2 linked regions of the Homo sapiens genome follow. The protein of the gene in region 1 interacts with the protein of each later gene in a pairwise test. Each region holds a gene or a part of one and is shown in the gene's direction. Other genes may lie near its edges.

Region 1 (4,043 bases):
TGCCATTGCACTCCAGCCTGGTGACAGGGCAAGACTCCATCTCCAAAAAAAAAAAAAAAAAAAGAAACAAAACAAAAACCCGGGAGAGAGGGCAAGGAACTCACATGAAATAAGGAGTCAGCCATAGGAGAGTTTTCCTGTTTGCATTTTGTTTTGTTGTGGGTTTTTTTAATTTTTATTTTTGGCAGAGTCTCACCCTGCCACCCAGGCTGGAATGCAATGGTGTGACCTCTGCTCACTGCAACCTCCACCTCCAGGTTCAAGTGATTCTCCTGCCTCAGCCTCCCGAGTAGCTGGGATTACAGGCGTGCGCCGCCACGCCCAGCTAAATTTTTGAATTTTTAGTAGAGATGAGGTTTCACCATATAGGCCAGGCTGGTCTCGATCTCCTGACCTCGTGATCCGCTCTCCTCGGCCTCCCAAAGTGCTGAAATTACAGGCGTGAGCCCCTGCACCTGGACTGTTGTGTTCTTAAAATGGAAATGGAGCACGTTTCAGTGTAGATGGGAAAAAATCTTGTCAAGCAGGGAGAAAAGGAACATGCAAGTGAAAGAAGGGCTACTTGAATGTTCAGGATAATACTATTAAGGAAAAACTTGCTAGACTACCCACAGACACCTTTGAAATCACTTCTTCATCATGGTGAAGACCACAGGAAGCTTTGTGCTGAAGTCTTAAAGAGCCAGCATTTTGAAAGAACATGATTCTGTCAGTGTCAACGTCAGGCAATAGTGCCTGATAATGGAGACATCTGTGTCATGATTGCCATGCTCAGTTCATCTTCACTTACTTTTCCAGGAGCTGATGAGGATGTAGAGAGTCCAGAGCTGACAACATCTCGACCACTTCCAAAGATACTGTTGACTAGTGCTGCTCCAAAAGTGGAAACCACGACGCTGAATATACAGAACAAGATACCTGCTCAGACAAAGGTGCGTTCTATTTTCCATTGCATTGCATTATCAGGTTATTACAAATGCTTCACTTTACTGACTGTACACAACAGTCCCTTTTGTATTATTTTCTTCTTTTTGGAGCTACCCATCATGAACTATGTACACAACAGTTCTTTTAAAAGACCCCACTTAAAATTGTGTAAGGACAAATGGTCTTCAGGTGGTGTTATAAATGGCTCTTCCTTACTCTTTTTGATCATTTTGGCATTTACCCACTTATAATCTCTGTCATCCAGGCTCAAATTATATACAACTATTTTTCACATGGCCCTCCTTCTTAAGGAACGTCTGAAGCCCAGTTAAGAAGTAAAGCCCTGTTTCTTTGGTTTCCTGGTTTGTAGGTTACGTAATTAGAAGACTCCAGGTCACGTCTTGAGGTGGTCCTAGTCTCACTAAGTCATTTCTCAGTCTTCCTAGGCCGACCATCAGTACTATGTAATCCTTGACCTCTCTCGATGATGATGAACCTGGGTACATCTGTATATATTCATTTTGAGAGCTGACTTATTAAGAATAAGGTCTTTGGCCTTAGACCTGAGTAAAGTGACCAGCTAATGAAAACTTGGAGCTTGTGATTTTGACCTCGTTAATATTGCAGTTAGCTGACCATCCACTAATAGGTAACCCACTGAAGTTAGAACATGCATATTAAAGTCTGGCAAAGACCTAAGTTTCAAATCCTGGATCCAGTCAGGTTTCTTAGCTTCTGAACCCATTTCCTATGGGCCTTGAAGAAGATGAAATGTGAGTGCATGTAGCATGGCACCTGAGACCTAGTCACCATTCTGTAAGCATTAATTGAATTGGTGGAGCAGAAGAGACCAAGCCAATTCACCAAATGAGCATGTGTAATAACTGTAGTGGTAGACTTTGCAATCAGTGCAGGGGTAACATATGGCTTAAGAAAACTCAGAAGCACAAGCATCCCCTTTTAGAGCTCACCCATCTGTTGATTAGAAATGAGATGCTGCCAAGCTTTAGCAGCAGACAGGGTATGGATATGGAAGGCTGTTTGATGAAGGTGGCGACAGGCCTTCCTTGGAGTAAGAATCATCCCGTCTTCAGGCCAGAATGCATGTGGGCTTTTCTTACCCTTGCCCCAGAGTACCTTTGTTCTTCCTCCTCCTCCATCCTCCCAGTGCCTGTGACTGGAATGGTGAATGGCACCGCTGGATGGGTTTCTGCAGATGTGGAACAGCCAGGAAGCCAGCCCTGTCCAAATTGAAGTGCTTTCTGTAGGACCAAGAAGGGTCAATTACTATTAGTGGTAGACTTCACAAGCCAGGCGGTAGGAAGGCAGGGAGAGCCCTATGAGAACTGAGACCGACTCACCTGGCATGTGCTGGATCCATGCATAAAAGCTACTGTATCAATGTTTCAGTTGAGTGAATGAAACAAAAAAAGAAAGGGAGAAATGAAAAGTGCAGGTGCAATTGGTGGTACGATGACTGCCTCAGAGTGTGTGTGGCACAATTAGCTACTATTTACTAAAGATGCATTTGGCTCTTACCACATTTTTATTTGACCACTTCTCTTGACTAAATCTGCTGAAGTCAGAGACAATTAGGACTCACTAGCTTGAGGGAAGCAACTCTCCTGGGTGAGTTTTGGCTTGTAGTGATAGAGAGTTCTATCCTAAGCAAGACTTAATTTGACATAGAGTTCTGTCTGGTTTGTTAACAGCAATGGATTGACCACTAATTTAAGTTTTTAAAAATTGGTTTTAAGGAAGTAATTGCATCAGATCGAGATAAAAAATGTAGAACTTTGGCAGGTGAATTTAAAAATTAAGGAGCCCAAAAGATTTTAATACATTTATATTCTTACTATCATTTGTGTTCAATATAGTAATAGTAGAAATTCATCCATTTATAGGAGATTTGTTGAGTGCTATTCATTATGTGTCGAACACTGTTTGCAGCACTGATAATGATAATATTGATCATGAATAACATGAATAATAATGATTAAATTTTTCATTTTGCTGTTTATGTGGTACAGCCGAATTGAACATTGCCTCTAGGATACCATTAGTGTAGATTTTGCTTTTCAATTGGTCTCACAGTGGCATTAATGTCACTGTTACGGATATCCTATCTAGTTTGTTGTAAATTTAAGTGACTAAAATGCACAAAAGGGAATCTCGTTATTTGTTTGAGAAGAGCATCACTCATAAGCTTTTACTTCTGTTGCATTTCCATGGCATCCAAACAACCAGACATGGATGTGGCAGATCTTTACTTGGCCTCATTTAATCATCCCTGCTGTCTTTTTGCGGATTCATTTTGCACATACATTCATACAAGAGTGAAGGTATTTCAGATTAGTTCCATATTACCAAATGGTATCTTCTTAGTCAAGCCTTTGCTTCCATACGATAAAACATTTTGACTTAAAAAATGAATTTTCCACCCAGAGCCGCTTGAGGCTTGTGCACCTCCAGCTGCAGGGCGGCTCCAGTTCTGTGGAGTCCTTCAGTTCCCACACTCTCAGATCCCTGGATTGCACGCTTTGTTCAGCCTGCCGGATCAGAGGCTGAGTCAGAGGAAACTGAAAAGATCAACTCTCTTAAATGACTTTAGGGACTCAATCACATGGTGAAACCATATGATTTGTAATAATAATGGGACAAAGATGATATGGATATGGATGAATTAAACTCAGTCTCTCATATTACAGTAACTACTTAGGTCCATTTCATTTCTCACCAGAACTTGTTTACCTCTCTCCCTAGTCACAAACCTGAGTATTCACCTATTTGAGATTTCTCTTCCCTTTTCTAACTTGTAATAGTAAAGCAGTACTAATGAGCAGTGAAAAGGTCTCTAGACTAGAACCCAGATAATCCATTCTCTGACCTGTTGTCTGTCTTTCCACAAGGCAGCCAATTAATGATGGGCTTTTCATGAGAAGAATAGAAAAATCTCAGCAAAAATACTGCCAATGAGCTGCTCTCTTCTGCTTTACTTTGGTACCTGAAGGCCTGGGAAGGCCTGTCGTATTTCCTTCTCTCATAGTAATAGAAAGGACGGTGACATTTTCAGTGCATATTGTGCACCAGTGAAATGAAATTTCTCTATGGCCTCT
Region 2 (2,916 bases), on another chromosome or scaffold:
TGTCCTTCATCTCCATGGTGATCTGCACCCTCAAGGTGTTCCAGGACAGCAAGGCCTGGGAGAACTTCCGCACCCTCACCGACCTGCTGCTGCGCTTCGAGCCCAACCTGGATGTGGAGCAGGCCGAGGTCAACTTCGGCTGGAACCACCTGGAGCCCTATGCCCATTTCCTGCTCTCTGTCTTCTTCGTCATCTTCTCCTTCCCCATCGCCAGCAAGGACTGCATCCCCTGCTCGGAGCTGGCTGTCATCACCGGCTTCTTTACCGTGACCAGCTACCTGAGCCTGAGCACCCATGCAGAGCCCTACACGCGCAGGGCCCTGGCCACCGAGGTCACCGCCGGCCTGCTATCGCTGCTGCCCTCCATGCCCTTGAATTGGCCCTACCTGAAGGTCCTTGGCCAGACCTTCATCACCGTGCCTGTCGGCCACCTGGTCGTCCTCAACGTCAGCGTCCCGTGCCTGCTCTATGTCTACCTGCTCTATCTCTTCTTCCGCATGGCACAGCTGAGGAATTTCAAGGGCACCTACTGCTACCTTGTGCCCTACCTGGTGTGCTTCATGTGGTGTGAGCTCTCCGTGGTCATCCTGCTGGAGTCCACCGGCCTGGGGCTGCTCCGCGCCTCCATCGGCTACTTCCTCTTCCTCTTTGCCCTCCCCATCCTGGTGGCCGGCCTGGCCCTGGTGGGCGTGCTGCAGTTCGCCCGGTGGTTCACGTCTCTGGAGCTCACCAAGATCGCAGTCACCGTGGCGGTCTGTAGTGTGCCCCTGCTGTTGCGCTGGTGGACCAAGGCCAGCTTCTCTGTGGTGGGGATGGTGAAGTCCCTGACGCGGAGCTCCATGGTCAAGCTCATCCTGGTGTGGCTCACGGCCATCGTGCTGTTCTGCTGGTTCTATGTGTACCGCTCAGAGGGCATGAAGGTCTACAACTCCACACTGACCTGGCAGCAGTATGGTGCGCTGTGCGGGCCACGCGCCTGGAAGGAGACCAACATGGCGCGCACCCAGATCCTCTGCAGCCACCTGGAGGGCCACAGGGTCACGTGGACCGGCCGCTTCAAGTACGTCCGCGTGACTGACATCGACAACAGCGCCGAGTCTGCCATCAACATGCTCCCGTTCTTCATCGGCGACTGGATGCGCTGCCTCTACGGCGAGGCCTACCCTGCCTGCAGCCCTGGCAACACCTCCACGGCCGAGGAGGAGCTCTGTCGCCTTAAGCTGCTGGCCAAGCACCCCTGCCACATCAAGAAGTTCGACCGCTACAAGTTTGAGATTACCGTGGGCATGCCATTCAGCAGCGGCGCTGACGGCTCGCGCAGCCGCGAGGAGGACGACGTCACCAAGGACATCGTGCTGCGGGCCAGCAGCGAGTTCAAGAGCGTGCTGCTCAGCCTGCGCCAGGGCAGCCTCATCGAGTTCAGCACCATCCTGGAGGGCCGCCTGGGCAGCAAGTGGCCTGTCTTCGAGCTCAAGGCCATCAGCTGCCTCAACTGCATGGCCCAGCTCTCACCCACCAGGCGGCACGTGAAGATCGAGCACGACTGGCGCAGCACCGTGCATGGCGCCGTGAAGTTCGCCTTCGACTTCTTTTTCTTCCCATTCCTGTCGGCGGCCTGAGGATGGTCCGCCACGAGGAGCTTCCAGTGCATGTTGCCATGAGGCCTTTCCCCAGTGTGGCCCCAGCCCGACAGGCATGCACCAGTGCCGCCTGTGCCCACGTGTGCAGACTGTGGCTGCAGAGACCTTGCGACCATGTGTAGATTGCGTGGACCCCGACAAAGGGAAGGCTGCTGTGTAGCTCTGTCCACTCTGAATACCAAGTGTGTTGGGAATTGCATGCCATCTCCACCCTGAGCCTGACCTTTCTGAGTGACATGGGTGTGCCAGGCTAGACTAGGAGGTTCCGGTGTCTGGAAAAGCACTTTACAGATGAGATTCCCTCTCCTCCCCCACCTTCAAGCACCCTGTTCCCTCTTTCTTTCTTTTGTGTTGGATTTGTTTAAAAACCAAATAAGCATCTGTGTAACCTCCACAGTAGCATTTCTTATTTGTTTGGTCACTGCTACACCTTAGCAGCTCTTCCCCTTTCCTGGGGGATGTGCACGGCAGCTTGAGCCTGTCACGTGGTCAAGGCCCGGCCCCATCAGAGGCTGGGGGAGGCGGCACATTGGCAGTGTGTCACACTGAGCTGGGCACCACAGGCTGCCTCATGACCCTCCTGTCCAGCAGGTAGTGGGTGAATGTGTGAAGGTCTTGCCTGAATCCATCAGGACTTGGGAAACAGAGAACCCTGTGGGGGCGGCTGTGGGGGAGGTCCCTGCCAGTGTTTAGAAGAGCCTGACTGTGTTCAGTGCCTTGGAGCAGAAAGCCAGGGTCCTGAGTGGCTGAAATAAAAGCCTCTGGTGGAACCTGCAGCGCTTTCCTTCCTTTCTTTACCGAAAAGAAGTCTTTCTTGTACGTGCGTGAGAATCAGCAGAGCCTGCACTCCTGTTGAATGAAATGCAAGTGCAATTTGAGTTATAAAAGAGCAAGGTTGATGTTTCACAGTTGATGGCTTCCTGCCACAGCGAGACCCTGGCTTCATCTCCAGCTGGAGGGGCCCCTGGGGCATCTGCCGTAACTGTGGGGTGGCCTGGGCATGGGCTGCCTGTGCAGAGAGACCTGTGCTGAAGGTGACCATGGAGTGTCAGCCCAGCCATCTTCAGATCTTACTGAGCGGAAAGTGCACGGTCATAATTATCTTTGAATTCCAGTTACCCATGAAGTGGAGCCTACAGGGTGATTGATGGCGTGGGGGCTGCTGTCCATGCGGGAGTGTGTTGTGAAACCACCTCCTGTGTTCCCTAACCTGCAGTGATGACCCCATGGGATTATAATCAGAACTTAGTCATTTGGGGGCACCCGAGCAGCTGCA

Evidence for each region. The genes of interacting proteins can lie anywhere in the genome.
Region 2: the proteins of SDC2 (region 1) and WFS1 interact in binary tests that used the Homo sapiens proteins (3 or more experiments, as listed by UniProt).

What each region holds. Positions count from the first base shown.
Region 1 is NC_000008.11:96,601,597-96,605,639, forward strand, and holds part of SDC2 (syndecan-2 precursor), read left to right. Parts: intron 1-798; coding exon 799-932; intron 933-4,043. UniProt on the Homo sapiens protein: Cell surface proteoglycan which regulates dendritic arbor morphogenesis.
Region 2 is NC_000004.12:6,300,850-6,303,765, forward strand, and holds the end of WFS1 (wolframin), read left to right. Parts: coding exon 1-1,619; 3' UTR 1,620-2,416; downstream 2,417-2,916. UniProt on the Homo sapiens protein: Participates in the regulation of cellular Ca(2+) homeostasis, at least partly, by modulating the filling state of the endoplasmic reticulum Ca(2+) store.